Regions from separate parts of the Homo sapiens genome. Here region 2 is linked to region 1. Evidence: fine-mapped expression QTL. A gene starts in region 1. The other region holds a variant in brackets. All regions are shown on one strand. Distances are from middle to middle. Region 1 holds the start of LONRF2 (LON peptidase N-terminal domain and ring finger 2). Region 2 overlaps LONRF2 (LON peptidase N-terminal domain and ring finger 2).

The links.
Region 2: its variant is fine-mapped to the expression of LONRF2 in blood mononuclear cells (TOPMed, PIP above 0.99). The same link has a PIP of 0.9 or more in T cells.

What each region holds. Positions count from the first base shown.
Region 1 is chr2:100,320,747-100,325,138 of GRCh38, forward strand. LONRF2 (LON peptidase N-terminal domain and ring finger 2) reads right to left here and starts at 1,755. Exons shown (of 12, transcript NM_198461.4): 1 at 669-1,755. The coding sequence starts at 1,347.
Region 2 is chr2:100,287,236-100,291,627 of GRCh38, forward strand. LONRF2 (LON peptidase N-terminal domain and ring finger 2) reads right to left here. Exons shown (of 12, transcript NM_198461.4): 10 at 3,023-3,185. Among named protein-coding and RNA genes, the nearest start is that of LONRF2, 33 kb to the right of the region's middle. RefSeq lists an enhancer at 3,696-4,336. The variant CCAT/C (reference allele first, on the strand shown) is at 1,940.

The sequences.
Region 1 (4,392 bases):
TAAATAGTGTTAACAGGTGGTGGCTGGGTGAAGGCAGGAGAGTGCCTGTTGCTGGCCTTAGGCCTCAGATAAATAAGGAAATGACTGAATGAACAATTTAAAACTACACACACTAGTCAGTGTAACTATCTAGTAAGTTAAATACGCCATGACATCTAATGATGGCCTCTGAGACAGAGAGCAGGCTAGAGCCGGAGCGTTTGACGTGATTACAGCAGAGTGGAGGCGGTTCCTTCCTGGCTATATTAGCTGAAACCCAAAGCAAATCTTGCCCCAGCACAAGGCACCCCTTTCTGCGCCTGTAGTGTGTCAGCTATGTGCATTTTCCTTCAGGATGAGCAAAAATATTTCGTCATCCTCCCCGCTCCTCAACAGCGCAGAAGATGCCGAAAAGCAATTACAGGACCTTACAGAGCTGCTCCGGGGGCCGCGGGAAACTTACCAGCATCCTGGAAAAGACAAAACCAGTGGGGTGCACTTGGCCTCTCCTGGCTGCAGGGTGTGGCCGCCCCCACCTTTCACCTTCCCATCCTTAGGAAGCAAAGTGACCCCTAAGCCTAGACAAAGCTCTCGAAAGCCCAAAGCCTCGGGCCCACCGGCCAGCTCCCCACCCCGCTGCTGGGCCGGACAGGTGTAGGGGAGGCGGACCCGCCCCGCAGCCGACTCACCCAGCTCCAGGGCCTGGTCGCACCTGAGCAGCGCGGCCTCCGGCTGCTGCTGGCGCTGCAGGCTCCGCGCCTGGCCTGCCAGCCTGCGCAGCCGGCACTCGGCCGGGAAGCACTTCTCCAGCAGGCCGCTCAGCACCACGTTCACGCGCCGCACCTGCGGCCGCGCGGGCCCTGGCTCCACGCAGCGCTTGCAGACTGTGAGCCCGCAGGGCAGCGTCACCGGCTTATGCAGCAGCCGCCGGCAGCGCGGGCAGCCGAGCAGGTCGCGGGGCGCGCGGGGCTCCGGGGCCGGCCCTCCCTCGCCGGGCGCCTCGGGCTCGCCGCCCGGGTTCTCCGCGGACAGCGGCCGGTCGCGCAGGCCCACGGCGCGCACCAGGCCGCCCGCCAGCTCTTCCAGCTCCTCCGGCCGCAGCGCCCCGAGCCGCGCGGCGCCGCGGAACGCGCCCAGGGCTTCGGGGAGGCGGCCGGCGCGGGCCAGCGCGTCCCCCAGCCTCAGGCACAGGCCGCGGTCCGGCTGCGCCAGCCCGGCTAGCATGGAGCGAAAGAGCTCGGCTGCCATCTCGTAGTCGCCCGCGCGGAAGGCCTCGTCGCCCTCCTCTAAGCGCTGGGCGATCGGCTCCGCGCGGTCGCAGCCAGGACACTGGGGCGGCGGCGGCGGCGGGACCGGCTCGGGGCTCATCACCGCGGGGCTGCGACGACGCGGGTCCGGAGCGAAGGCGCGGAGCAGGGAGGATGCGCTGCTGCTGGGAACTGGCCGGCGGGAGCGCGGTCTCAGCCCTCGCCAGCAGCCACGCGCGTCTGGGGGCGGCGCGCTGCGAGCGGCTGAGACCGCGGGCGGGGGCGGGCGCCTGGCTTGGGCAGCGTCCTCAGCGCGGTGTGGGCGGCGAGCCCCGCAGGGCTGCAATCGTTCCGGGGTGGGGGCCGGGACAGGCACCGCGGGCGCAATCTGAGCCCCTGCCCACGCGCAGCGGCCTCTCAGTCCCGCCGGCTTAGGTAACCCAGGTCGCTGCGGTAACGCAGTGACCGCGCTCCAGGTCCGCGTCTCTTGCGATGCTTCCCCCACTCGCCTGAGGGCTCCTGCGCGACTGCGCGCGCGTCCTCTGCCTGCCGCCTCCCCGCAGAGGTGCCGGGGCCCTGGGAGCAGGTGGCCTTGGCCGCGGGCTGCTGGCGCGCCGGCACCGCGGCACCTGCTCTTCCCCAGAGGCCTGGCCGCCCCCACAACCTGTGGCTCCGCTTAAGCAAGAACCCAGGAAAAGTCACCAAACGCATCACGCATCTCTAGCTTCGACTTAGGAAATTGTCCTAAATGACTGGGGAGGCTGAAGTGGGCACCCAGAGGCCCCGCCTCAGCGAGCTTCTTCTCTTAACTCTAGGCTGAGGCCTTTGAGAACTCATTTTAACAGAGAACGTGGAGGGCCAAGAGAACCAGATACCAGGAGGAGGAGGGATTCGAGAAGTGGACAATTGTATTGTGCCCTTGATTAGGAAGCAGAAATAGAATTAGAAATAGAATTCTAATTAATAGAATTAGAATAGAAATAGAAAGGGTGCCCTAGTATGGAGTACTGCAGACATAAGTTGCTGGGGAGAGGGAGCTAAACGCTCCGTTGGTGTACAAGCAAGGTTTAAATTAAAATCCTCTGTGCGTATTAACCGGGTTCATAATTTCTCCTATATAGCCTATGTATTTCTCCTATGTAGCCTGCTCCCTTCTTCCTGTCGTCACAGTATCTGTTTTATCCTGTGTATTTGAATACAATAAAATGCATTACAATATTCTAGAATTCATACTACTGTTCATATTTCAAGAATAAATTTTTTTAAAAAATTGGAGAGGTTTTTCTACATCTAAAACTGCTGGCTAAAGAAAATATACAATACCTCGACCACATCTGGCTTTGGGAAAGGAGAAATGCCTCATTAAGTGAGAGAACATTTTAGACCAGTTCCTAAAAGGGAAAAAGGGGCAATTTTTGGCCAGCCCTCTAGTTCTACAATAAACAAATGCAGAGTACCCACCTCCTTTTCCATGAAGGATTTCCCCCAGCTGTCTACCTAACTTAATTGATAACAGTGTACTGTTTGGGTCTCTTTTTCATTACTGAATTATTTCAAATTCACTTTTTCAATCACTGTTTGGATTTTTATCTGCTTTCTTTATAGAATAACAATTCACTTATATTTGAGGGTCATTTATCCATCAAATTCACAACCAACAATCAGGAAGCAATGGGGAAAAAGCTTCAGAGCACAGACCATACAGTAAAGATTGTGAAACCTTATGATCTCAGATCCTATTTGTTCTTATTTTAGACAAATATCTAGCAAGAGAACAGAAAGAAGCTTGCCGGAGGTATGCCTGCTGAGAGCCAGAAGTGTTTAAAGCAAAAATGTTAGTGTGTTGTGAGGTTTATAACACATAGAAATAAAATATATCACAAATATAACACAAAGGCAGGTAGAGGAGAAATGGCAGGATACTGTTGTAAGGTTCTAATGCTATATGTGAAATGGTATAATGTCACTTTAAGAAAGACTGTAATGAGTTAAGGATGTGTCCTCTAACCCTAAAGCAACCTCCTAAATAACACAAAGAGCTATAGTTTAAAAGCCTATAGAGATGAAATGAAATTGTTAAAAAAAACTCTATTAATCCAAAAGAAGGCATAAAAAGAGAGGAAGGAAACAATTAGATAAAACAAATAGAGAACAAATAGCAAGATGGCAGGTTTAAACCCAATTATATCGGTTAATGTTCATTAAATATTGTCTAAATACCATAATTAAAAGGCAAAGATTGTCAAAAGGAAGACCCAGATATATGCTGCCTACCAAAAAAGAACTTTTAAATATGAAAATACAAATAAGGTAAAGGTAAAAGGATGGAAAAAGATGTTCTAGTTAACTCTAAGCAAAATAAATCTAGAGTGACTATATTGATAGCTGACAAAGTCTATTACATAGCCAAGAACATTGCTAGGAGAAAGGACAGCCATTTCATAATGATAAAGGTGTTAGTTGGTCAAGAGGACATAATAGTCCTAACCGCGTGTGTTCCCAATAACAGAGCTTTCAAATATTTGAAGCAAAAACTGATAGAACTGTAAGGTGAAATAGGTAAATTAATAATTATAGTTGGATATTTAAATATCCCTTTTTCACCATAAAAAGAACAAGATCATGTCCTTTGTAAGGACATGGATGGAGCTGGAAGCCGTTATCCTCAGCAAACCAACACAGGAACAGAAAACCAGATGCTGCATATTCTCACTTATGAGTGGGAACTGAACAATGAGAACACATGGACACAGGGAGGGGAACAACACACACTGGGGCCTGTCGGCGGTGGGACCGAGGAAGGGAGAGCATGAAGAAAAATAAGTAATTCATGTGGGGCTTAAAACCTAGGTGATGGTTTGATAGGTGCAGTAAACCACCATGGCACACGTTTACCTATGTAACAAACCTTCACATCCTGCACGTGTACCCCAGAACTTAAAAATAAAACACCCCTCTTTCAACAATTAATACAAGTATACTGAAAATCAGTGAGGCTATAGAAGACTTGAGCAATTCTACAAACCAACTCAATCTGATTGATGTTTATAGAACACTCCACCCAACAATAGCAGAATACACATTCTTTCCAAGTGCACATGGGACATTTACCGATATAGAACATCTTAGAGCCATAAAACAAATCCCAATTTAAAAGTATTCCTTC
Region 2 (4,392 bases), 34 kb before region 1:
TTGAAATCTATCAATTGTATCCTGATTTTTCTCTTAATACCATAATATAAGCACATTTCCTGTAATTTTGAATAATGTTCAATGGCTGCATGCAATTATATATTTGAGATACATGCCAATTTACTTAACTATTCACGTAAGTTATTTAGAATATTCTAGCTTTTTTATTTTTAAAAATAACACAATAATATAAACATTTATGGAAAAGTTGTTTTGTTTTGTTTTGCTTTTTTGACAAGGGAGGGAGGTATGGTTTCCTCAGTGTAGTTTCCTAGAGACCTTGACAGAATTACCAAGTCAAAGGGTGACATTTTAAAAATTGTATTCCATATCACCAAACTATATTCCTAAAGGCACGACAGGGCAAGACTACACTCATTACATTGGCCTGGGCTGATGGACTCCAGCTTGTGGTCGGCCACAGCACCTTAGACTGACCAAGCTTGGCCTCTGGTCCCTATGTCACTATCACATCTGTCATTTAAATTACGCCTCAGTCCTGTTCAGGAACACCTGGTAGAGGAGGAAGAGCATGGGACTGGGAATCACGGGGCCAGGGTTTGGTCTGGCTTCATCACCAACTCTCATGTGTGAATCTAGCCAGTCTCACAGCCTCGTTAGGGCAGAGTTTTCTCATCTGCATAATAGGAATAAACCATGAAGGTCCTTTCCTGTTACAAAATTCCAGTACCTACAAAAACTACGGTGTGCTGAGAAATTATAATATAATGCATATACCACCCTCAATTTGATTTATACAAATCAAATATTCATATGTGATAGAGGATTTTCTTATAAAAATAAGCTAAAATTATTTCATGTTGTAGCTATTTAAGCCCCCATTTAAAATAAGCGCATACACTATTAAAAGCTGTCATCTACAACAACGGTCAATAAACCCTGCCGTCAGGTCTATCCATCCCACAGAGAGACCCTGAGAATTATCACTTTCAGCTGTAGCTTTGAAACCCAGCTTTCTGGTCCAGCCTGGGAGCTGGGCTCCCTGCTCTGCTCCCATGCACTGGGATGACCAGAAACAGCAGCTGGAGGAGGCACAGAGACAGTGTCCTGGGTGTGACTCCATTCACAAATCCTAAGTGTACACCACTGCCCCCAAAATGACTTCCAGTGTGATGTGGGGTGGCTACGTACCCTCACTTCCACAATTCCAAATGTCAACCAAAGAATTTAAAAGAGGGATACAATAATTCCAAGGATTTCCTCCTTTTAAGTATTTTAAAATTTCTTGCTGCAGTATAATTTACAGACCAAAAAGTGCATAGATCTTGTTGAGCTCAAAGAGTTTTCTCAACTGTATACACCAGTCTGACCATCACCCAAAACCAGATAGACATTTCCACTACTTAGAAAGATTCTTCACCACTCCCTCCAGTCAATTACAAAGCCAACCCCACAAGCCTTTTCTGACTTCTGTCCCCAGACTCTAGTTTTGCCTGTTCCTGGAAGTATACAGATGAAGCCACGCGGTATGTGTTCGTCCTGTGTCTGGCTTCTCTCACTTAGCATAATGTCTGTGAGAGTCATCCATATTGTTTCATGCACGAGTGGTTCATTTCTTTTTATTGACAGGTAGTATTCCATTGCATGAATGGACCACAATGTGTTTACTGACTCAAGTGTGATCAGCACCTGGGCTGTTCCTGGTTTGGGGCTATAATGGAGTAAGACTGTTATGGACATCCTTGTGTAAGTCTGTTGGAGAATCTCTCAAAACATTTTGCTAATTTGTCAAATTATATGTCCTGATATTTCTATTAGACACATGAAAAAATTCTTAAGGGTTAATAAATTCAAGTCTTTTATATTTAGCTTTGGGAGGTATTTTTTAAGTTGTAGATTTTGTCACATTCTGAATTAATACCAACCTAGAGAACAGGGACTGACAGACTGCTGTTCATGAGTCAAACCGTGCTCACCA[CCAT/C]GTTTCCGGAAGTCACATTTAACGGAAACCAGTCATGCTCATGCCTTTACACATTGTCTATGGCTGCTTTTGCACTACAAGGGCAGAACTGGGTAGCTTCGACAGAGACCACATGGCCTCTGGAGTCTAAAGTACTTATTAGCCGGCCCTTTACAGAAAAAGTTTGCCAGCTCCAGGGCTACAGCATCAAATACAAATCAAAAGCCTATTTTGCAATGCGCAGGTTTACATGTTGCATAAGTACAATAAGGTCTTTTTTTTTTTTTTTTTTTTTTTGAGATGGAGTCTTGCTCTGTCGCCCAGGCTGGAGTGCAGTGGCACGATCTCAGCTCACTGCAACCTTCAGCTCCCAGGTTCAAGCAATTCTCCTGCCTCAGCCTCCCAAGTAGCTGGGACTACAGGTGCCCGCCACCACACATGGTTAATTTTTTTATATTTTTAATAGAGCCAGGGTTTCACCGTATTAGCCAGGATGGTCTCAATCTCCTGACCTCGTGACCTGCCCACCTTGGCCTCCCAAAGTGCTGGGATTACAGGCGTGAGCCACCATGCCTGGCCAGATCATTTTTTTAAAAGGAGATTTCTGTACCAGCTCCCAACTCAGGTAAAAATCCACTGAGAAAATAAATAACTGCTGAAGGCAGGGGCTCATGCCTGTAGTCACAGCACTTTGGGGCTACTACACTTTGGTTGAGGTGGGAGGACTGCTTGAGCCCAGGAGTTTGAGACCAGCCTGGGAAACACAGGGAGACTCTGTTTCAACGACAAACAAAATTTAAATTAGCCATGTGTGGTGGTGTGCACCTACAGTCCCAGCTACTCGGGAGGCTAAAGCAGGAGGATCGTTTGAGCCTGGGAGGTCAAGGCTGCAGTGGGCCAAGATCATGCTGCTGCACTCTAGCCTGCACGACAGAACAAGACCTTGACTCAAAAATAAACAAATAGATAAATAAATAACTTAAGTGATGAATTAAGGACTTAAGTAATATTGTCAGTACAAGTTTGACAAAGCTTTTCCACAATGCAAAGGGAAGCGAGAGGACCGACTGCTATAAAATACACCAGTATGATAAGCCTTACCTTTTCATCTTCAAGATATTCAATGTCCGCTGTGTTATAGCCATCTCTGTGGCGGTGGCTTAGCACTCGGAACCGACTGATGCCAATCGCGTCTACAACAGAACTTCCATCAGGAAACGTTCTCACGTCCTTAATCTCCAGCATGCATCCATACTCTGAAAGCCTGAAAAGACAGTTAGGAGAAATGACTGTGATTTTTAAAATGCAGGGGGCCTTCTTTTTCCCTGGATGAGAGTTTACTTTTAAAAGGAATACAAAGCCACACAAAACAGTGTCTCCACATCAGACCAGCAAGGTTATTGTCGCTAAGAGACACGTGCACATGGTCGCTTCTGTTAGATGTTAAATATAGTGGTGATGGTGGCTGCAGGGGAAGGGCTCCAGGTGAGACAGGACTTGTGCCTTAGCGGTTCCAACGGGCTAGTGTTTTGGGAAGGACCCGAGAGATGGGAAGAGATGAAATCTCAAATGTGGCTCCTCAGCCACCTTGGCGGGGCACCATCAGGACTGCCCAGCTGGTGCCACGCACACACTCGGCTTTCCAAAGCTCTCCCCAGCTCTTACCCACACTCCGATTGTAACTATCACCCTTATCCTAGTGATATTCTCATGCTACCACGTGCCAAGCAACACACGGAGCAGTTTATAATACATATGAATTCAAGCCCACACTTAAAATTTGATTCATCAAAAGTCAACAAAGTGAAAAAACAAGCTATGAGTTCCATGTGCACTGAGAATATAGAACACTAAAAAGAATGTGAAAAACGACAAGGAAAACCAGATAAACCACAAAACATATGTCTCTTGAACCCACCAGAGGGTGGAGATTGCTCAGGGTAACCAAACAAAGATCCCACAGGGAGAGAGTAGGCAGAACCCAGGAAGAGACACAAAAGTGTGTAGGAAGCATTCAGCTATTTTTTTTTTAAACAAATTGCCAATGACCTTGTGTGGGCTGGCACCAGAGTGCAGGTCTGGAGAGCTGCACTCACAAAGGGAGTTTGCATCACACACAGGATCCTGTCCACAGATAAGAGCCTCCTTGATGAGTCATGCCCTGCAGTGAGGCAGGCTTGGAGGAGCTGACGTTTATCTGGAGGCCTCTGCTGGTGCTGGTTGCTGGGGCAGCAAGTCCTCCACCTTCAAAGGCACTCCGCTCCTCCTCCCTCCTGCCTTCGCCCACAAGGTCTTCACCTCATTCCAATTCTGCCAGCTCTGCCCTCCCCAACCAAAGTGCCGTGGAAAGCAGTCCCCGGCCACTGCCTTCATCTCCTTGCCTCCCCCTCACTCCTCCATATCCTACCGTTCCATTAAAATGACTCCAAAAGAAGTCAGAGATGCCCTCTGAATTGCTCAAATCACTTGAC